Homo sapiens: one gene and its partners. The protein of the gene in region 1 interacts with the protein of each later gene in a pairwise test. Each region holds a gene or a part of one and is shown in the gene's direction. Other genes may lie near its edges.

Region 1 (7,932 bases):
TGGTCCTGGGGAGCAGAAAGGCCAAGACAGTGTATTATTCTTTGTGACTCACAGTGCTGAAACAGGAGAGTAAGAAAGCATCCTTGGTCCTGTTCTTTCTTTCTTCCCAGTTTGAAAGCCCAGAAAGCTGATCTGTGGCATAAATGATGGATGAGGTCAGACTTTAGTTTGCAGGAAGAAAGAGGGGGGCAGACAGCCGGGTTATACCAACAATCTGCTAGCCATCCTGACGTCATCTGTGTTGTCCTTTTTTTCCCCTTATTCTCCCCAGGGGAAAAAAATATGAAGATATTTTCTGGTGATGGAGCAGGGTGGAGGAAGAGTTGGGAATGCAGACATTTGCACTACTGGCCTAGTCGGAGTAGCCTTAAAATTTTTGCTTCTGGAGGACGGTCGTCATGGCAACCCCTGGACTCATGGATCAGGCCCCCTTTCTGCCTTTGTCTGGAGTACAAAGTCCTTGTTCCGCTTTCCACGGGCTGCTGAAAAAACACACCCAGCCAGATAGACACAGACACAGATAGACAGGCTCTCACGTATACTTAAAAACATTTAAAATCTTATATCAAGACCCAGGTTTCTTCCTACAGCTTATAATGATTCAGTTAATTGCAACCTTACCTGTCTGCTCCTCATGTTTCTCTCCACCTGTAAGAACAGGAGATTCTCTGATGCTAGCAGGGGACAGCCTTCCAGAGAGACCGCAGCACCACAGGGGCCTTTATGTGCATGTTTGTCCATCCTTGAAACACAGCAATCACCATAGCTATGGTTCCTAATTAGAGTGAGGGGACTTCTCCTGGAAGGAGCAGATGGGGAGCACGGCCCCGAGTGGGTTGAGAGGACTGAGGGTAGGGTTGTGGCAGAGAGTGTTTTGTGGCTTCCCAGCTGTTGTTGTCAAACCTGCTGCTGACAGGAGCCAGCCTGCCCTTTCCTTGGGGACCCAGACCCCGCACACCCAGATAGGAAAGAAACCAAGGCCTCCTGAGTCAAAGTGCCCACCATGGCAATCCAAAACTCCAGGAGGGAAAATGAAGGCTTTCTGGATTGACTTACAAGGGCAAACTCATCAAGGGCACCTGCTGGGAGCTCGACTTAGGTTTCTTCTCTGCACTTGGCTTCAGGCGAGAGCCGTGAGGAAGCTCTGAAGAGCCCTCATCCCTCAGTCTCAGTTTCTCCCAGTCCCTGTTCTAGGCCACAGATTGCAGAGAACACCTCAGGGTACAAACCACAGGAAGGTGATCTAGAAGGGCCAGGTGAGGAAATAAGTGCAGAGAGGTTAATTGACTCATCCAAAGATGCACAGCTAGTCGATAGCAGAGCCCAGACTGAATGCCAGGACTCCTGGAGGCTAAGTAGATCATGAGGAACACAGCAATTGCTCAAGGAAAAGGAAAATGCTAGAATGCACAGGGGACCAATTGAGACACTGAAAACCAGGCACCAAGACCCATTGGAATCTAATGAGATTAATTTTAGAGTAATAATATCATACTGACCATACTTTACTATGAATATACACTGTGCCAGGCACTTTACTGCATACTGCACATACATTATTTCACTGTGACAAGGATGGTTATCCCCACTTAACAGATGGAGAAACTGAGGCTGGAGGAGTATAAATAACTTACCCAAGACCACATGAATACTGAGGGGAAATGCCAAGATTATCCCCAGCCCTTCTGCCCCCAAAGTTCAGGCCTTGACTTGTTATGATACTGACTTTCATCAAAAGGAGGGCCGTGATTCATGCCTGTAATCCCAGCACTTTGGGAGGCCAAGGTGGGTGAATCTCTTGGGCCCAGCAGTTCAAGACCAGCCTGGGCAACATAGCAAAACCCTGTCTCTACAAAAAACACAAAAAATAGATGGATGTGGTGGCTCATGCCTTTAGTCTCAGCTTCTCAGGAGGCTGAGGTGGGAGGATCACTCGAGCCTCGGAGTTGGAGGCTACAGTGAGCCATAATCATGCCACTGCACTCCAGCCTGGGCCACAGAGTGAGACCCTGTCTCAGAAGAAACAAAAAAAGGAGAAACAATGAGCTGAATGTCCTCATTGATGTCATTTCTTTTAGGTTGCCATATGTTCAGGCCCTAGACTAAGACATCTTCTAGATGAAAGTTAAGACAAAAAGTATAAACCTCCCTGAGAGAAGTCAACTCATGAATGGGCTGGTTGGGCTACATGTGGGTGGTAGAGATGCTTTTTGGGGTCAAGCTTGGGCTTATATGTGTGTGTTTGCCATGTTGAACACTAAGACTCTGTGTCTTGACATTTGACATCTGACCTAGAACCAGGATCCTCCTGGTAGGCCAGGCCAACAAAACAGGGCCTATTTTTTCTAAACATTAGAAACCAAAAGATTTAGTAAAGTTGGTCAGACATTGATGCTGCACACCAAGGTCTATCTGAACAATTGACAGAGCTGGATTCCAGAAAGTTTAATTAGTAAGGGGATGTAGGGGAAAATCCAACATCCTTCCCAGGGAACGGTGCTGTGTTAATTCACTCCTAGGATCCCCTACCTATTACCCTCAGAATAAATCCTTGGCTTGCTTGCTGCCTGGAAGAGAAATCATGCAGGTGTTTCAGAGCATTAAGGAAGTTATTTCTTCCTCATGTTCACTCCGAGGTCAAGGACAAGAATGCTAGCTTTGGCGTTGGGAGGACCTCAGTTCAGTTCCCAGCCTGAACTTAAGTCTTGCACTGCAGTATAAAACAAGTGTTTTACTTTTCACTTCATCACATTATTGGATTTGATTATGTGGATAATCAGGGCTGCTCCAGAGCATATTTGCAGGGCAGTCTACGCAGTAAGCCATACATGGCAGCTCTGCAAAACCGGCACAGCAGACAGTGGTGTGAAGTCCACCCAGCAAAGCTCCCTCTCTTTCCCCATTCCCCATTCTGTTCCAGCTCAATGCAGGAAGTGTATGAAATTCACCCCCTATAAGCCAGGCCCTGTGCTGGGTGCTAGGAGTAGAGCTACAATGAAGTCAAGATTCCTGCTGCCCAGAGACTTCCACTCTAATAAGAGAGACACAGGGAAGTAAACATAATCTCAGTGAGGTATGAGGCATGCCATTAGAGGCATGTAGAAGAATGGAAACTGCACAGAGGAGTGTGAAGTTAAGTGTCTTAGAGAGGGGTAAAAAGACTTGCAGAGAAGTGATACATAAACCAAGTTTTGGAAGACGAACAGAAACAGTGAAAATGATAGAGTGAGCAGAGGGGAAGAGCTCATAGAAAGGGATAGAGTACGAATCAGAGGATCCCTGGGCTCTTTCAGGAATGTGGCTACTCACTTATTATGTCACCAGCACAGCTCACCAACTCGGACATATGGAGGAACAGCTCCTCTCACCTGCTCCCTGCTTGTGCCTCCATGGGTCTCTGACCCCCTTAGCTTAGGCCTCCTGCTCCTAATTCTGGCCTCCAGGCCCATGGCCCCAGTAACATGTTTTGGATCCATTTCCCTGGCCTTGACCTTCTGGACTCTTTTGGGCATAATCCACTCTACGATCGGCAACTGTGAATGAGAAACCCTCTTCCTTCCACCCTGCCCTGTGGTGTCCCAAAGGCCAGGCCAGCCCAGCTTCCCCAACAGTGACCAGATGCATACAAGGATCTGTAAGTGTCTCATGGAGCTAGATTACCACACATGAGTGGCAGTAGACATGGTTCCAGAAGCAGACAGGACACCAGTCCGATTCTGGCTAAGGAGTCCTGCAGACATGGGGAGCCACTGAAGGGCCTGATGCTGGGGACTGGCAAATTCTGAGTTGCCTTCCCAGGGGCTGCTCCAGAGAAGACAGGGTGGATGTATTGGAGAGAGAAGTACTAGGAGCAAAGAAAAAAAAATGCATGGAAGACCATTGCACTAGTTGAGCAAGACGTTGAGTAGGAGACAAAGTCAGGCTTCCCTGCCTTTTGTGGCTAAGACAATCATGGACCTCCCTGAAGGCAGGGGCAGAACAGACCTGAGGTCCCCCTCACTCTCTCTCGTGATTCTGATTGTTATTGAAAGCTGCCTCCTACCACATCACTATCATCATTCCTCCCCCGATTCTCTACCTCCTGCTTCTTTTCCTCCTCCTCCTATTCCTCCTCCTCTTCTTCCTCCTCTCGTCTCTCTCCCTCCCTCTGTCCCTGCTTCTTCTTCCTCCTCATCCTCCTTCATCTTCTTTCTCTCTCTCCCTAAAGCAATATGCCTTGCCTCCTGCCTCTAGCTCAAGCTGCCAGACAAGACAAAATGGAAAAGTAAGACAGAAAAGGAAGTCTGAACTATAAAAAGCCAGCTGAAGAGCAATCAGCACGTGTCTGGGAGAGGCAGACGCGACAGGAGGAGCTCGGCCTTACCACTGTCAATCAGAGGTTCCTGAGTAAGGAGACCTGACAAAGGTTTGGGCCTTCAGGAGTCTGGAAACCCTGGGATGCTCAACAACAACAACAACAAAAAACAACAACTTTTGTCATGGATTTCATCACCTAGGATCCTGGAGGAGGAAATCACAGCTCTCCCCAGCGATCCCGCCAGGCAGATGGTGGGAAATAGAGATCCATTGAATAGCACCCACAGGCTCATGTTCCGGCTTCCCTTGTGACCACCTGCCACCTCCACTGTGGCCCAGAACCATCTTCAGTGACTCTCCACAGGTCACAGCAACCTGTTTACAGACGGCTAGAATTCCCAAGCACTTTTAGGACAGGGGACTCGGGATGGTTCCAAGCAGACAGCAAAGTCTTCTCTAAGAGAAGCCGCTCCTCCCGATCTATTTTTGCCGATGTAAACACTTGCCAAGGAAACGAGGCATGTGGGCATGCGCCGGCCCTGCAGGCCCTCGGGTTGCTGCAAAAGGCAACTGGAAAGTCACATGTCATAACAGTGGAAAGTACATATGCAACTATTCTTAGCCCTGGAATGTATACACTGTCTCCCTGCCCAGCAGTCCTTGCACAAAGCTCTAGAAAACTATGAAAGTGCCTTCAGCATAAACAAATCCAGAAATCTCCCAGGACAAATCATTTGCCAACTGAAAGAAAGGCCTGGGGTTTATGGTTTCCCTTGGAGCTAGAGGTAGAAACTCTCCGGGGGGATAAGTCAGACCAGGCACCAGTGGATGTCACCGCAGCAAAACAAGGTAAGTGTCCCTCATACTTATTTCTTCTGCAAGTAGAAAACCAGGTGTCATCCAATAAACCAGGGGATTGTTTGGTCTTTCCTTTTATTTATTCTATCTTTAAAACAAGACTCAATGAAGTCATATTTAAATATATGCATCAAAGGTCCATTTTCTTCCCTCATTTCTGTCCAGTGACCAGAGGGCCACACCTCCAGAATATCATCCTTGGGGAATGATTGACACCCAGAAAGAGAGGTTTAGACATCTGTTACTCAATAACAGATATGCCATCGATCTGGAAAAAGGCTCATGAACTTCTGCTGGTCAAATCCATGGACTGTTATCTTGCTTCAGACTAACATTTCAGCTTCTGATAACAGAGTAACTTCCAACAACTTTAGTTTGTTTGTTTGGTTGTTTCTCTCAGATTAGCTGAAGATACTATTTGCCTATTACTTTTGAAAATAACCATAACCCAAAAGGGCTCAGGTCTGAGATGTATGTGGCCTTCCTTTCCAATCTTCCCTACACAATATCCATGGTGACATCCGCAAACATCATGGGGAATGGAATAGGAGCACTGGTCTTGGAGTCCCCACAGCTGAACCCTCCAGCACATGCAGCTGAGAAAGGTTTGACTCTTGCTGACTCTGGGGGCTTCCTTCCCTCTTTGTAGGATGGACGAGGAGTCACTAGATGGGCTGCTCTTCAAAGACCACGACTTCTCTTCTGACTTGTTGAGGCAGCTCAACAGCTTAAGGCAAAGCAGGATCCTGACTGATGTGAGCATCTGTGCCGGTGCCCGGGAGATCCCCTGCCACCGCAACGTGCTGGCCTCCAGCAGCCCCTACTTCAGGGCTATGTTCTGCAGCAGCTTCCGGGAGAAGAGTGAAGCCAAAGTGCAGCTGAAAGGCATTGACCCCCCAACCCTGGACCAGATCGTCTCCTACGTGTATACGGGGGAGGCACATATTGCCACTGACAATGTCCTCCCCGTGATGGAGGCCGCCTCCATGCTACAGTTCCCCAAGCTGTTTGAGGCCTGCTCCTCGTACTTGCAGAGCCAGTTGGCCCCCAGCAACTGCCTGGGTATGATCAGACTCTCAGAAATCTTAAGCTGCGAGACCCTCAAGAAGAAAGCCAGGGAGGTGGCACTGACGTCCTTCCCAGAGGTGGCCGCATCGGCCGACCTGAAGGAGCTCTGTGCCTTGGAGTTGAGGGACTATCTCGGAGATGATGGGCTCTGTGGGGAGGAGGAAAAGGTGTTTGAGGCCCTCATGGTTTGGATCAAGCATGACCTCCAGGCCCGGAAGCGATACATGCAGGAACTGTTCAAGCAGGTCAGGCTGCAGTACATCCACCCAGCCTTCTTTCACCACTTCATCGCCAACGATGCCCTCCTGCAGTCCTCGCCTGCATGCCAGATCATCTTGGAGACCGCCAAGAGACAGATGTTCTCTTTGTGTGGCACCACCGTCCCAGACTGCAAACTCCTGTTGCATGTCCCTCCAAGAAACTCTTACCAAGATTTCCTCATCCTCTTGGGCGGAAGGAAGGACAGCCAGCAGACCACCAGGGACGTCCTACTGTACAGCAAACAGACCGGCCAATGGCAGAGCCTTGCCAAACTCCCGACACGGCTGTACAAGGCCTCTGCCATCACCTTGCACCGCAGCATCTATGTGCTGGGGGGCATGGCTGTCAGCTCAGGGAGGAGTCTGGTCAGTCACAATGTCTACATCTTCTCCCTGAAACTCAATCAGTGGAGGCTGGGGGAGCCCATGCTGGTGGCCCGCTACTCCCACAGAAGCACTGCCCATAAGAACTTCATCTTCTCCATCGGGGGGATTGGAGAAGGGCAGGAGCTCATGGGCTCCATGGAAAGGTATGACAGCATCTGCAATGTCTGGGAGAGTATGGCCAGCATGCCCGTGGGGGTGCTCCACCCCGCAGTCGCTGTGAAAGACCAAAGACTCTATCTCTTTGGAGGAGAGGACATCATGCAGAACCCTGTGCGCCTTATCCAGGTAAATGGCCGGTTCTTCCCATCACGTAACTGCATGAGTATGTGTGCTTGGACACACCCACACCTGCTTGCACACACATGCACATGTATACATACACACCAAAAAACACATATATGCACATAAATATATATATGCACACATATACACAAACACACATATGCATACATGCGTGCACACATATATGCAGAAATGTATATTCATGCATACATGCATACACATATGCACACATATATGCAGATGCCAACATGCATACGTGTGCACATGCATACACATATACAATTCATGCATGCATACACACATTTACATATATCTACACATGCATGCACACATTTATACATATGCACGAACACAAATACGTACATGCATACATGCACACACATGTGCACCCATGTACACACATACCAACACTTGTTATTTGCAAGGAAGGAAGAGAGGAAGGGAGGGAGGGAAGAAGGATTTTCAGCAAGATATTTTTCAATTTATGAATTTTTTTGTGCAAAAATAATACATAACAAAGGATATCAAATACCATCCCTATGCACAGAGTTTATCTTCATTTGATGAGAAAAATATATATCTAAAAATTCAAGTTATTATACAGCATATTGAAAGTCAGATAGTGAAGTCCCATAGGAATTTGGCAGGTGCTTCTAACTCAAGTCAGTAAGGCCTTAAAAGAAGATTCCCAAGCCTTGGTCCACACCTCTGTGACCAAATCCCCTGGAACCTGACCTCACATCACTGAATCAAAATATCTTTGTGTGAGATCCTAAAATGT
Region 2 (7,024 bases), on another chromosome or scaffold:
AGGCCTGGCTCCAGGTGGTCACTGGGCGCACCATGTCTGGACCCCACCCCAGCCCCTGAGTGGGGAATTCTGGGGAGGGAGACTGAGTCTGTCTCGTGCCACTGCTTGCTTGTGGAGACCTCAGGGTGTACCATCCACTGGGCTCACCCCAAAACCGGTGTCGAAACCAGTGTTGTCCCACTTTATGGCAAGTGGGCATGCAGCTCTAGGTGTTCCGCAGGGGCCAGTGCCCTGGGCCGCCATAGACAGTTGTGACACATGACTTAGGCAGTAGATGCCCCTGAGGGGACGGCAGTGCGGGGGTGCTCTCGCCATCCTCACAGAGCTCCTCACAGCTTTGGGGCCAAGGCAGCACCAGCCATTTATCCTCACCATTCAGCGGGCCAGAGGGCCCCGGGCTCCAGGCCACTCCCGTGGCTGTGGTTGGTGCATGTACGTCGTGGCCTCAGTGGTCTCGGGGACACGCCCTGGGGTGGGGGCTGCAGCAGGTAGGGGGATGGGGCACAGCAGGACCTGAGGATGGGAAAGGCTCTTCTTCAGACCCTGGGTTCTTGTCGGCACCAGAGTCTCTCCTGTGCAGAGGCAGCTATGGATGATGGCTGTTGCCTGCCGTGCCTGGACACTGGCCCTGGGTGACACACAGGCTGTGGGAGGTGTCAGGACAGGCCCTGTGAGGAAAGTGGGTGCCAGATGCCACACGTGAGAGACGGGGCGCCCTGCTCCAGGTGGTGGGTGTGCAGTGAGGATGGCCTGCCCCACGCGCGCAGAGCGTCAGAAAGAGGAAAGAAAACGCAGCTGGCAGTTACAGACAGATTTTCTTTAGTTAAAACCTGAGAGGCACCCCCAGCCGATTGCGGTCAGGAGCACTTTATCTTACAGACTGAATGTTGGTTTTAGGATGAGAGGGCTTATCAGAAGCTCGGAATGTTTATGTGTGTGGAGAAGTTTATGGCAGGGTTGGAAGGAGGGAAGGTTATCTTGGGGCAGGCATCTTTTCAGCCTGGAGGTGGGTTTTCTCGAAGCTGGCATCTTCCCGGCTGGAGAAGGGTTATCTTGGGGCTAGCATGTCTCTGGTTGGGGAGGAGTTTGGAATGTTTCTGGTTGGAGATGTTATTTGTGGTTCATGGTCGTGCTGACCTTAGCCATTAGGCTGATGCCCTATGGATTTAGGCAGTTTTTGGTTAAGGTGAACTTTAGAATGAGGGGCTTGTCCAAGATGGTGATGCTCCTGCTCTGTCACAGAGCAGGGGCAGCGTGGGGTGGCAGGTGGGTGCCCTGGGCTCCTGCAGGGAAGATGGCAGCCTCAGGGTGTCAGTTCATCCAGCCATTGACTCAGCTTGTGGCCGCCAGCCCTGGGCCCAGGGACAGCCAGGAGCATCGTCTCCGAATCACGGGACCAGCCTGCCAGGGTGGAGGTAGACGGCCGAGGGGCGTGAGTGGATTCGCCTGTGACAGAGGCTCTCGAGGGGTTCTCAGAGGCACAGCTCTCAGCCTGAGCCCTGAAAGGATGCCGCGGCCCCAGGTGTAGGCTTGGGGGGCCCTGGGGCCGGAAGATTTAAGGAAAGAAGCCCCAGTTCATCATGACAGGAACTCTCAGAGCAGGGGAGCTCGAGGCGGCTGAGACTGGGGTTGGGTGGGGCTAGGTGGAGCTTTCAGGCTGTGATAAGAACGCTGGTTTCTCCCTCCAGGCCCCGGAAGCCTCTGAGGGGTCCCTGGTGCACCTGGGGCAGGGAGAGTGGGCTTCGGGGAGGCCACACCCGCTCAGGCACCAGGGGTTGCCGACCCTGGGGGAGACGAGGTGGTTGCTGTGGAGAGAGTCTCGCCTCTGTGGGGCATGGGTGAGGGGGAGCTGAGGGTCTGCTCAGGTGTGGCCTCTGCAGGGTCCTGGAGGAGGGCATCCCATTGGCTGTGACAGAAGGGCCTTGGTGGCAGGAACTTGCCACCCTGGAGTGGGCCCAGGGCACCGTGCTCCACAGGGAGCAGCGGTGCCAGGCTCAGCCCTGCCCCCGACTTGCCTTTTCTGTTCTGCAGCTTTTGCAGGGCCCCCAGATCCTCTGCACGGGAACAGCTTGTACCAGAAGGTTCGCGCGGCCGCGCAGGTGAGCCCAGGAGCAGTGTCGCTCTGCGGGGTGCCCCTCCTCCTGTAGAGGGGTGGGATTGGGGCCAGGATGTCAGCTGGGGGGTTTGCAGTTCTCCCATCCGGGACCCCTGCCTCTGCTCCTTGCTGGTGGACACAGAGCCTGTGTCCAGCTGAGTGGCTCAGGAGAAGTGTCCGGGGGACAGAACGGAGCTGATATGGGTGGCAGGGTGAGTACAGCAGGCCCTGGTGTGAGGACACTGAGGGCCTTCGCCTCCCCCTGTAGGACTTGGGGAGCACCCTGTTCTCGGACACCGTGTTGCCGCTGGCTCCCTCCCAGCCTCTGGGGACCCCGCCTGCCACAGGTAGGTGACTGAGGGGACCGTGTCCAGCTCTGGCACCTGGTTTCTGCCTCCTTGAGTGTCCTGGGTGTCTGTGCCATCCGTGGGCAGGGCCGAGGGTGGGGGCCGGCTTGCTGCTAACGGAGGACCCTCTGCAGGCATGGGCTCCCAGGCCAGGCCGCACAGCACCCTCCAGGGTTTCGGCTACAGCAAGGAACACGGCCGCACGGGTGAGTGGGGAGGGCCTGCATGGGCTCTGGCATCTCAGGGTGTGGGGATGAGGAGGTGGTGGGGGCCGGACCATGCCGCCCCATCTAGTAGCTGCTGTCCCCCGTCCCCTCCCCTACATGGCCTCAACCCTTCCTGGGGCTGTCCCCACTGTCTCTCTCTGGCTGCTGACGTGGGGGTGGGGCAGGTGTGGCCAGGGCTGCTTTATGGACAGATGAGAGAAACCAGGCCGAGCAAGAAGTCAGGGCTGGGCCCCGTGGCAGGGGTGAGTCCCACTCTGAGAGGGGCCGAGGGCTGTGCCCCTGGCTGTGGTGCAGGTGACTCAGGCAGTCCCGTGTGGAGCTGTTATGAGGTGGGGCAGTACCAGTGGACAACTGCTCACCAGCGCCAGGAGAGCCACAGGTGGCACCACTGCCTGCGGCTGGGACCCAGCCCCCAGCCCAGCTGTGCCCTGCTGCCGGGCCCTGGGCGGTGTGTAGCTGCTCACCGTTAGGCTGTGTCACGCCGTCCTGCGCACAGCCTGGGGCTCCTGCCGACACTTTGGTGTCGGGGCAGCTTCTACAGGGAACTCACACAGGAAAGGCCGGCCCCTCCCCGAGCCCTGGACACACCCTCCCTGAGCCAAGGCCAAGCCCAAGCCCCTTAGGACACCTTCACCCCCAGAGGACAGAGGGACGGAGGCATAACTCTGCAGTGAGCTTTGGTGTCCAGGCCCACTGGGAGTGGGAATGCCAAAGCGGAGTCCACTGGGAGCTTCCAGAGGGCCTGGGGCCCACCAGGAGGCCTCCCTACCTGCAGCATGTACCCCGACCTCTCCAAGCTTGAGCAGGGAGCCGATGCGGGCACCCTGCTCCCAGAGAACGCGGGTGGGGGCCGCACTGGGCGGCCGTCCCATCTCCCTCTCCTCGGGTACAGGCTCGGCAGGCGAAGCCTTCCTCTCCACCATCCAGAAGGCCGCAGAGGTGGTGGCCAGCGCCATGCGCCCCGGGCCCGAGAGTCCCAGTACCCGGAGGCTCCTGCCGCGGGGTGACACCTACCAGCCTGCCATGATGCCTTCAGCCAGCCACGGTCCCCCAACCCTGGGGAACCTACTCCCCGGGGCCATTCCAGGTCCCCGAGGTATCGAGGCGAGGGCTCCTCCCCTTGGGGTCTGGGTCACTCCTTCCTGTCACCGCTGGGGCTTTGCGGCCACGGAGGCAAATCCCAGGGCCTCCCACACAGCAGGAGGGGTGGGACCCGCGGCGGAAGCACATGCCCATGGGGCTGGTGTTTGCTGAAGCTGGAGCCAAGGTGGCCACCCATCCTCAGCTCAGGACTCAGCCCCCGAGGCCTCCTGGTCCAGGGCCCCGGGAGGTGGGCATGGGGCTGGCCTGAAGCCCCAGGGATCTCACCGGCTGTCCTGTTTCCTCCAGCTGTGAGGCATCAGCCTGGGCAGGCCGGAGGGGGCTGGGATGAGCTGGACAGCGGCCCCAGCTCTCAGAATTCCTCCCAGAACAGCGACCTGAGCAGGGTCTCGGACTCGGGCAGTCATTCCGGCAGCGACAGCCATTCAGGGGCCAGCCGGGAGCCGGGTGACCTGGCAGAAAGGTGAGCGGGAGCTGCCAGATATGTGGGAGAGGTCTCGGAGGCACCACACTGTCCCCCTCCCAGCGCGGCTCCTGCTCTCCAGGTTCTCCCCCATGCGAGACAGGAGTGGGGGCATGGCCTCCACTCACCCTTGACCCGGCCATTCCCCCTGGCAGGGTCGAGGTGGTGGCCCTGAGTGACTGTCAGCAGGAGTTGAGCTTGGTGAGGACTGTGACTCGGGGACCACGCGCCTTCCTGAGCCGCGAGGAGGCACAGCACTTCATCAAAGCGTGAGTGCGCCCGGACCCGCCCTGCTCTGCCTCAGCCCCAACCGTGGGCGAGGGAGGAGGGAACGGGCCGCACCCGCCACCCAGGTGTCCCCTCTGTGCAGGTGTGGACTGCTCAACTGTGAGGCCGTGCTGCAGCTGCTGACCTGCCACCTGCGTGGGACCAGTGAATGCACGCAGCTGGTGAGCTGCACACGCGGGCGGGAGGGCGTGACTGTGTGCATGTGCCTGTGTGCGTGTGTGTGCGTGTGCGTGTGTGTGCACGTGTGCCTGTGTGCACACCTGTGTGTGAACATTCCTCTGTGTGGCTGTGCGTGCGCACATGCCTGTGTGTGTGCGTGTGGGTGTGTATGCCTGTGTATGTATGCCTGTGTGTGTACACACTCGTGCATGTGTGCGGTGTGTACACACTTGTGCACGTGTGTGGTATGCACACATCTGTGTGTGTGTGTACATGACTGCATGTGTGTGGTTGTGTATGTATGTGCCTGTGTGTGTGTGCATGCACATGAAAGTGTGGACACGTGTGTGCGTGTGTCGGGGGGCGTGCGGAGGAATGAAGGTAAGGCAATCGGGGCAGCAGGTCACGTGCTTCTCGCTGGGGTCTGTCCAGGAGCCGGGGAGGACATGGCTCTGGTGTCCGGGAGCTGGGGTGTAAGGCGGTGAAGACAGGGCTCTGGTGTCTGGGAGCGGGGGTGTAAGGTGGTGAGGACAGGGCTGTGGTGTCTGGGATCCGGGGTGTAAGGCGGTGAGGACAGGGCTGTGGTGGAGCTGTCTCTGGGGCCTCCTGGCACTCCAGTCATTGATGAGGAGGAAGAAGAGGGAGAGAGATGGCCAAATAGGCCTCCCTGGCGTGGACCTGCTGCCCCATGGGTGCTGATGTCCCCTCCCTTCACCCGCAGAGGGCGCTGTGTGCCATCGCCTCCCTGGGGAGCAGCGACCTCCTCCCCCAGGAGCACATCCTCCTCCGCACCCGGCCGTGGCTGCAGGAGCTCAGCATGGGCAGCCCGGGACCTGTGACCAACAAGGCCACCAAGGTGGGCAGCTGCGGAGGCCACACGCACACCGGGGTCCAAGGGTACAGTGGGAGATACGCTGCAGTCCACGGCCACCCCGTCCCTGCCCGGCGCCTGGTCAGCCCTTCCCGGACCCCCTCTCAAGTCCCTGTCCCGCTGGCAGAGGGAGCAGCAGCAAGTCAGGGTCCTCACCTCCCCATTGCCTTCCCGCCTTCCACCCAAACTCTGCAGCACTCACAGTACACTGGCCTCTACCTATTCCTGGAAGCCCCCAGACTCCGCTGCCTTAATGTTCCTGCCCTTGTGTCTTGGCCTCACACTTACCTCTTCCAGGAAGCCCTCCCTGACTGCACATGCAGTTTGCCACCCATGACACAGCTCATGCTCAACTCCCAAGCTCCGGAGGGCAGAAATGGTTCCATTCATCTCTGTGCACTTGAACACTCTGAACTGCCTGGCGGCCACTGGAATCACACGGGGAGGCCTCTCCCGGCCGCCAGGCCCTGGCACCTTCCCTCTGCCTGTGGGCATTCCCAGCTTCTTTCTTCCTGTTTTCTCCCTGGCTGCTGGAAACACAGGTCCTCAGTCACCCATCCCCAAGTCATCCTTAACTGTCATTGGCCATCTGCTAGCTCACCTTTCAGTCAGAGCGACGAGTGAGCCTGGGGTTCGCACCACCGCAGGCGAACCTCATAGTGGGGTTTCTAAAACGGGCATGCTGGAAGAACCCTGCGTCCAACAGTTGGAAATGCCCAGATGTGCCAGGCCACGTGTTCACTCCCTCCGGCAGTGCCTGGCGGGTTATGACGGGGAGGGTGTCCATTTGTCTAGTAGTGAGTAAAGGAGCAAGATTCGAGGTGTGTATGTGACACCTGCCCCGTGTCGCCAGCACCAGCCCAGCAGCTGCTCTCGGTGGGATGACAACTGGGTGCACTGCCCCAGCCCCTCCCAGCAGCCGGTGTCCTGCCCAGAGGTGGCCCTGCCCTCTGGGTGGAGGGACTGAGGAGGTCCTAGGGAGAAGCGGGCCCTGGTCCCCACATTTCCCAGGGTTGCATAGGAACCTCCCTGGTTCCTCCTTCCTCTTTCAGATCCTGAGGCACTTTGAGGCCTCCTGTGGGCAGCTGTCCCCTGCCCGGGGCACCTCAGCTGAGCCTGGCCCCACAGCCGCCCTCCCAGGCCCATCTGACCTGCTGACCGACGCTGTGCCTCTCCCTGGGAGCCAGGTCTTCCTGCAGCCTCTGAGTTCAACCCCGGTCTCGTCCCGGAGCCCTGCTCCCTCATCTGGGATGCCGTCCAGCCCTGTGCCCACCCCACCCCCAGATGCCTCCCCCATTCCAGCCCCCGGAGACCCCAGCGAGGCCGAGGCCAGACTGGCAGAAAGCAGGCGGTGGAGACCTGAACGGATCCCAGGGGGCACGGACAGCCCAAAGAGAGGCCCCAGCAGCTGTGCGTGGAGCCGCGACTCCTTGTTTGCTGGCATGGAGCTGGTGGCCTGTCCCCGCCTGGTGG
Region 3 (6,611 bases), on another chromosome or scaffold:
TTTGAGACCAGACTGGGCAACATGGCAAAATCCTGTCTCTACTAAAAATTAAAAAAAAGTCAGCTGGGTGTGGTGGTGTGCGCTTGTCATCCCAGCTACTTGGGAGGCTGAGGCACGAGACTCGCTTAAGTCTGGGAGGCAGAGGTTGCAGTGGGCCAAGATCAAGCCACTGCACTCCAGCCTGGGTGACAGAGTGAGACTCCATGTCAAAAAAATAAAAAAAGACCAGCTGACTAGCAACCTTAATTCCCCTTTGCTATGTGTGTAACCTAACATATTCAAAGGTTCTGGGATTGGGACATGGACATCTCTGGGGTCCATTATTCTGTCTACCACAATCTGTAAAGTGGATGTCCTAGGTTACATCAGACTTGGAGGTAAAAATTCAAGCCCAACAATAGTTACAAATTGGTAATTTTCTGGGTCTTTCCCTGTTAGCTCTTCAGGAAATGCAGCAACCCCTGTCCCCAACCATCCTCTCAAAGCCCTTCTCAGTCTGCACTGAGAGTCATCCTCGGTGTCTGATGGGGCTGAGGAAGTAGTCCTGCCAGCTGCCCTGAGTCTCTGCAGTGCTGCTGTCTTCCTATTCGGCCTGTGCTCCTGCTGAAACCCCAGCCACACAGCAGGACTGCCTGGCCATCATGAAATTCCCTTCCTGATTTTTCCTCTTCCTGCTGCAGACTCTCAGGCTGAGCCACACACCTTCAAAGATTAGGGTTGGAGCCACACACTTTCAAAGGTTAGGGTTGGAGGTCATTCAATCTGAATGACCACCACTATTTCACACTCAAAATAACTACCCCAAGCCTACCCCACAGCCACCCACACACTCACAGTGACTCCGTGCCCTAAAATGAAACCAAGATGGTTTGCATTCTTTATCTCCTTAGGATTTATTCTTTTCTAAAGAGCTCGTGACCTTTCATGTAAGCAGAACCCTGTTGGTCCTTCCTTTGCTTGCCCTGTAGATAGGCTTGAATCCTGGAACAAGTATAATTTCGGATCATGCTGGACCTGATTTCTTTTTAACCTCATGTACAGAGGTCTGAATTAATTATACACCTCAGTCATGGTCCATCATTAGCACTGATCTATACAAAGCCCTATTCTTATTTATATATTCCCTTTTGTGACATCCATTCTAATATGTTTTATGTGTATCTTTTTGTTTTTATGTGTTCTTCCATGATTTGCATTGTTGTTTTCAATGTGTTATTAATTTACACAATTAGCATTGTGTTACATATCTTACTTTGTTTCTTACCTTTTTTTCTTAAATGCTGTGTTTTTATGATCCATCTATGTTGTTATGGGCATTTTGTCTTTTACTCCTGATAACACCTGATCTTTCAGAATGTGCATTTGTTCACCACATGTTACCTGTCTATTTCAGGCAGGATGGACACCCAGGTGACCTCCAATAATACTGCAGTGAACAGCCTTATATATGTCACCTTATGGACACCATAGGTGTGTAAGCGTTCTCTGGGTTATTGATTAGTTTGCTAAGGCTTCCATAAGAAAATGCCACAGACTGGGTGGCTTAAACAGAAATTAGTTTTTGCACAGTTCTTGAGGCTGGAAGTCTGCAATCAAAATGTTGGCAGGGTTGGTTTCTCCTGAGACCTCTCTCCTTGGTTTACAGATGGTCACCTTCTCACTGTCTCCTCACATAGTCCTTCCTTTGTGCACATGCATTGTGATACCTCTCTGTGTTTAAATTTCCTCTTCTTATAAAGACACCGGTTAGGTTGGATTAGGGTCCTCATTTTAATTAAATCACCTCTTCAAAGGCCCTATCTCCAAATATAATCACACTCTAAGTACTGGGGGTTAGGGCTTTGACATATAAATTTGGGGTCAGGTGCAATTCGCCCCATATTAGATACATATGAGTGAAATTTCTAGGCCATTGACATGTGGGTACTTAATTTGACCACATCCATGTACACTTCCATAAGGAATAGATTAGAGCCACTATACCCTAAGCCCCACCTACATTTAGCAAGATCCAGTTTTCTATTATTTTGCTAGCCCAATAGGCATAAAATGATATGTCCTTATTATTTTAAATTTCATTTTATATTTTTGTTAGTTTTCAGGATTTCTTCTTCTGTAAAGAACCTGTTGATATCCTTCGCCCATTTTTCTATTGCATTTTTCTTTTTCTAGGTGATTTGCAGGATGTCCTTATATATTCTAGGTAATGGTTTTAGACATTGGTATTATCTTCTCTTCTGACATTTGCCTATCAGCTTTGTTCATAGTGTACTTCATAAAATAGCAGAAATACTTAATTTTGATATAATCAAAATCATCAATTATTTTTTCTTTATAGCTTAACCTTTTGAAGTTTTATTTAAAAAGTCTTTTCTTAGGATTAGATCACAAAGATAACCTTCTATATATTCTTTTATTAAATTTACAGTTTCACCTTTCAAATTTAGCTCTTTAATCCATCCAGACTCTGCCTTTGTATGTATCAAATGTATGTATGTACTCTGCCTATGTAGTCCTAGGTAGGGATGTTCTTTTTCACCATGTAGTGAACCAGTTTTCCCAATACCATCTACCAAGAAATATCTATTATTCATATTTATACAATGGAAATGCCACTTTTGGTTTTTTTGTTTATTTGTTTGTTTATTTTTTGTTTTGTTTTGAGACGGAGTCTCGCTCTGTCGCCCAGGCTGGAGTGCAGTGGCGCGATCTCGGCTCACTGCAAGCTCCGCCTCCTGGGTTCACGCCATTCTCCTGCCTCAGCCTCCCTAGTAGCTGGGACTACAGGCGCCCGCCACCACGCCCGGCTAAATTTTTGTATTTTTAGTAGACACGGGATTTCACCGTGTTAGCCAGTATGGTCTCTATCTCCTGACCTCGTGATCTGCCGGCCTCAGCCTCCCAAAGTGCTGGGATTACAGGCATGAGCCACCGCGCCTGGCCAGAAATGCCACTTTTATATTCAGTTTCCATATATTTAGGGGTATGTCTCTGAGGACTCTATTACATGCCATGGGTCTATATTTCTGCTCTTATATCAATACCATACTTGTTTTATTATTTTTGAACCTCAGCTTTCTGCCATGTCTTTATGAACTGCTACGGTAAGTATGCCCATTATCCTTCTTTCTTTTTCAGAAATTATTTAGCTAATCATAGAAATTTATTTCTTCATATACATTTTGGAGTAACTTGAATTCTTAGAAAACATTCAGATAGAATTTATTCAGAAGGCATTGTGTTTCTAAATTAATTTGGAAACAAATGGTATTTTTGTAATATGTTTGAACATTTACTCAAACCATAGTCTATGTTCTTTACTGGGGTGTTTAAGTTTTCCTACATAGGTGCACATATTCCTGGTTAAACTAGATCATTTAGAGATCTAACGTACAGCATGAGGGCTACAGTTAATAATATTGTATTGATAGAAAATTTGTTAAGATTTTAGGTGTTCTTTTCACACACACAAAAAAAGATAACTGTGAGATGGTGGGTATGCTAATTTGCCTGCCTGTAGTAATTATTTTACTTTGTATACATATGTCAAAACATCATGTTGCATACCATAAATAAATAAACCAAATAGTTTACAGACTGTTGATATTATGAAAGTTATTTTATTATATTTTCTAATAGATTACTGGTTTAGAATAAAGACTATTTCTGTTTGTAGGGTAATCTTGATTCCAGCAATGTCAGAAACTCTCCTTACTATTCTGAGACCCAATCTGCTATTTCTGCTTGTTTTCCCAGGCATATGATCCTATCTCCTATAAAGAATGATGGTTTTATCTGTTTACTTACAATTCTCACAATTCTATTTCTTTTTTCTTTCCTTATGGCTTTGGCCAGAACCTTGAGTCATACATAAAATTGTGGCAGTGTTAGTAGATATCCTTGTCTTATTCCTGATATTAACGTTTCTCCATTGAGTTATTTTTTATTTAGTTTTTATGGTATATAATCCTTATTAAGTTAAGGAAAATTACTTCTAGGTTTCTGAGAAATAGGTACTTATTAAATTTTTTGCATTATTTGAGGTAATTACATGATTTTTCTCCTTCAGGCCATTATTAATGAAGTGAATTACATTGACTGATTTTTCTGATACTAAATTCCACTTCCATTCATGGAATAAATCCTGTGTGTTCATGATGTATTACTTTTTAATACAGTTTACTTCAGTTAGCTCGTATTTTATTTTGGTTTATTGCATCTATAATTATAAGGGAATTGGGCTCAATTTTTTGCTTATATTGTTTTTATCTGGTTCTGGAATCAATATTTCACAACCTTCATAAAAAGAGCTGGGAAACTTTTTGCTCTTCTATTTTCTAGAATAACTCTTAAGAGTTTGGTAGAATTCATCTGGAAAGCAATATGAGCCTGGGGCATTTGGGGCAGGGAAGAGATGTCAACTATCATTTCAATTTCTTTAATATTCCAAGTTTTGTTTTTCTGTTTCTTCTGTCCTTCTTTCTACCTGATTCCCTTTTTTCATAGACACACCTCAATCCTCACTGCTCCATTCACATATCACATACAGTCTTTATCTTTGAAGATTCTGACTATATTTTAAAGCAAAAACTCAATCTCCTATTTATGAGTTAATTCCTAACACCTCGTAACACCGTTCCATCTTCCTCATGCCCTCTGATAACTCTGTGTGTATCTTGGACATTATTTATACTACTTTTATCAGGGTTATCTCTATGCATTATTTCCATTTCTACTCAGCAATGGATAATCTAATATCATGTATATAATATGACCTTTGCCTTGCATGCAGCCCTGTCTTCTCTAAAACCAAAAATTTTGTAAAAGTAGAGAGCATAATGCTAATAAGGGTCTGGCTTCTTTGTTTTTGCCCTTTCCCTTTATATACAAATATAGAAGGTTAAAAGCTTTGTACATAGAGACTTTGTGCCCTGTATAAACATTCCTCTTCACCATACAAACCCCACCCCCATTCTATCTCAAGTCCTCATTCACCTCAGCAGAGCCCATTGATCCAGTGGACTGTCTTTCATCCCTGGGTCTCGACCTCACTCCATAAATATTTATTTGGGGGGAAGGAATGGGAATGCTGCCAGACCACAGTAGTGAAGAAACCCAGTATCTTCAAGGTAAGGCATGGAGGGCAACATCTAAGCTAACTTGGTGAGATTTCTAGGAGGGTTCTTCTTACCCCTCGTGCCCAGTACAGTCTTTCTTTTTCAGGTAGCACTGGCCATTCACTGTAATTAAAGATAGTATGAAGTGTTTCTGCTAGCATCAAAGGAAAACAACTGGCAGATTTACAAATTATATTATATTATAGTTCTATTCACTGTTCATATACTTCTCTAAGAATCTTCTCTTTTCCATAACTAGTGTTGGGACCACAGAGATGAAAGACTATCATTTCCCCCACACCCCAATCAAGGTGCTCATGGTCTGGTAAGAAAGTCAAATGCATTAGCTGAAACTTAACAACTGATAAAAGCTGTGACAGAACCAAGTTCTAATGGCTGAGGAAGGATACAGAGGATCCTCTATGGTGAAGCTCACCTGCGGTCCAGCCCCATCACTGTCATCAGCACTTAGTCACATGAGCTACCCTAAAGGGAAGTAGGATCTGGCCTATGGAATCACAATCCCAGGACACTATAGCTGTGGGGCTTTGGGAAACCTTCCTGGTCCTTCTGAGCCTCAGCTTCTTCATCTATAAAGTGGCACCAACAGCCACTGTGGTGGTCGTGAGGAGTTAATGAAATGATGTGTGTAGTGTCTGACATGCAGAAGGGCCCAGGCTACTGGGAGCTGTTGTCTATTGGGTGTCATGACTCTTCGCTTCTGATTGCAGGTGGTAACACCAGATGGACATGGGAAGAACCGAGCTAAGTGGGGCCTGCTGAAGAATATCCAGTCTGCCCTCCAGAAGCACTTCTGAGCCCCTTCAGAGCAGGAAACAACCTCAGACTCATCACAAAGTAGACATATACACACACATATATGTATGTATATTTTTCTCACCACATTCTTCAAGGAGGTTGTAGACAAATGTTTCCATGACCTCTCAGCTTTCCAACAGGAATCTTGTAAGAGCTAATAAAAGGAAATACCTGACATGGCTTGCTGTTTGTTCAATGACAACTATTTGTTATGATGACAGTAATAAGCAAGGCACTCAGCAAGTCTGTATATTTCCAGCTGCTCAGGTCTAGTCCTAGGCTCAGAATTCTGTGGTGTTTTGTAGGAGCAACACCCAGCTTCTAGGTGGTAAAAAGAACACTGTATTTTGCAGTCGGGACCCCGTAGGTGTGCATTCTAATGCTGGCCTAACTAGCTTTGAATGCTTGGGCAAGTCGCTGATTGCCACGGAATTCATTACCTCACCATGTAGTCTATTTTAAGGAGCCAACATTAAAATGTTTTTCCTAATTATTGAACTTGAATTTGCCTTTTCACAACTTTCAGCCCATGGTCTGAGGTCTACCTCTAAGCCATAAAGAATGAGAGCCCTCCCTCTTCTCCTTCTGGACATAGCAAAGGAAGAACGGTAGAATGCCTGGTTAGAGGATCCTCTATGGTCATTTGAAGCAAGGCATGGAAGAATGACAAAATCA

Evidence for each region. Proteins that work in one complex are often made in the same cells at the same time.
Region 2: the proteins of KLHL38 (region 1) and TEPSIN interact in binary tests that used the Homo sapiens proteins (3 or more experiments, as listed by UniProt).
Region 3: the proteins of KLHL38 (region 1) and TRIM42 interact in binary tests that used the Homo sapiens proteins (3 or more experiments, as listed by UniProt).

The regions. Positions count from the first base shown.
Region 1 is NC_000008.11:123,650,799-123,658,730, reverse strand, and holds the start of KLHL38 (kelch-like protein 38), read left to right. Parts: upstream 1-4,929; 5' UTR 4,930-5,145; intron 5,146-5,319; exon of another isoform or gene 5,320-5,803; 5' UTR 5,804-5,804; coding exon 5,805-7,154; intron 7,155-7,932.
Region 2 is NC_000017.11:81,229,056-81,236,079, reverse strand, and holds part of TEPSIN (AP-4 complex accessory subunit tepsin), read left to right. Parts: intron 1-796; exon of another isoform or gene 797-2,031; coding exon 2,032-2,099; exon of another isoform or gene 2,100-2,141; intron 2,142-2,363; coding exon 2,364-2,442; intron 2,443-2,478; exon of another isoform or gene 2,479-2,576; coding exon 2,577-2,648; intron 2,649-3,561; coding exon 3,562-3,765; intron 3,766-3,870; exon of another isoform or gene 3,871-4,058; coding exon 4,059-4,233; intron 4,234-4,388; coding exon 4,389-4,502; intron 4,503-4,603; coding exon 4,604-4,682; intron 4,683-5,401; coding exon 5,402-5,536; intron 5,537-5,839; exon of another isoform or gene 5,840-6,078; intron 6,079-6,152; exon of another isoform or gene 6,153-6,342; intron 6,343-6,603; coding exon 6,604-7,024. UniProt on the Homo sapiens protein: Associates with the adapter-like complex 4 (AP-4) and may therefore play a role in vesicular trafficking of proteins at the trans-Golgi network.
Region 3 is NC_000003.12:140,695,040-140,701,650, forward strand, and holds the end of TRIM42 (tripartite motif-containing protein 42), read left to right. Parts: intron 1-5,376; coding exon of another isoform or gene 5,377-5,475; exon of another isoform or gene 5,476-5,703; intron 5,704-5,848; coding exon 5,849-5,935; 3' UTR 5,936-6,111; downstream 6,112-6,611.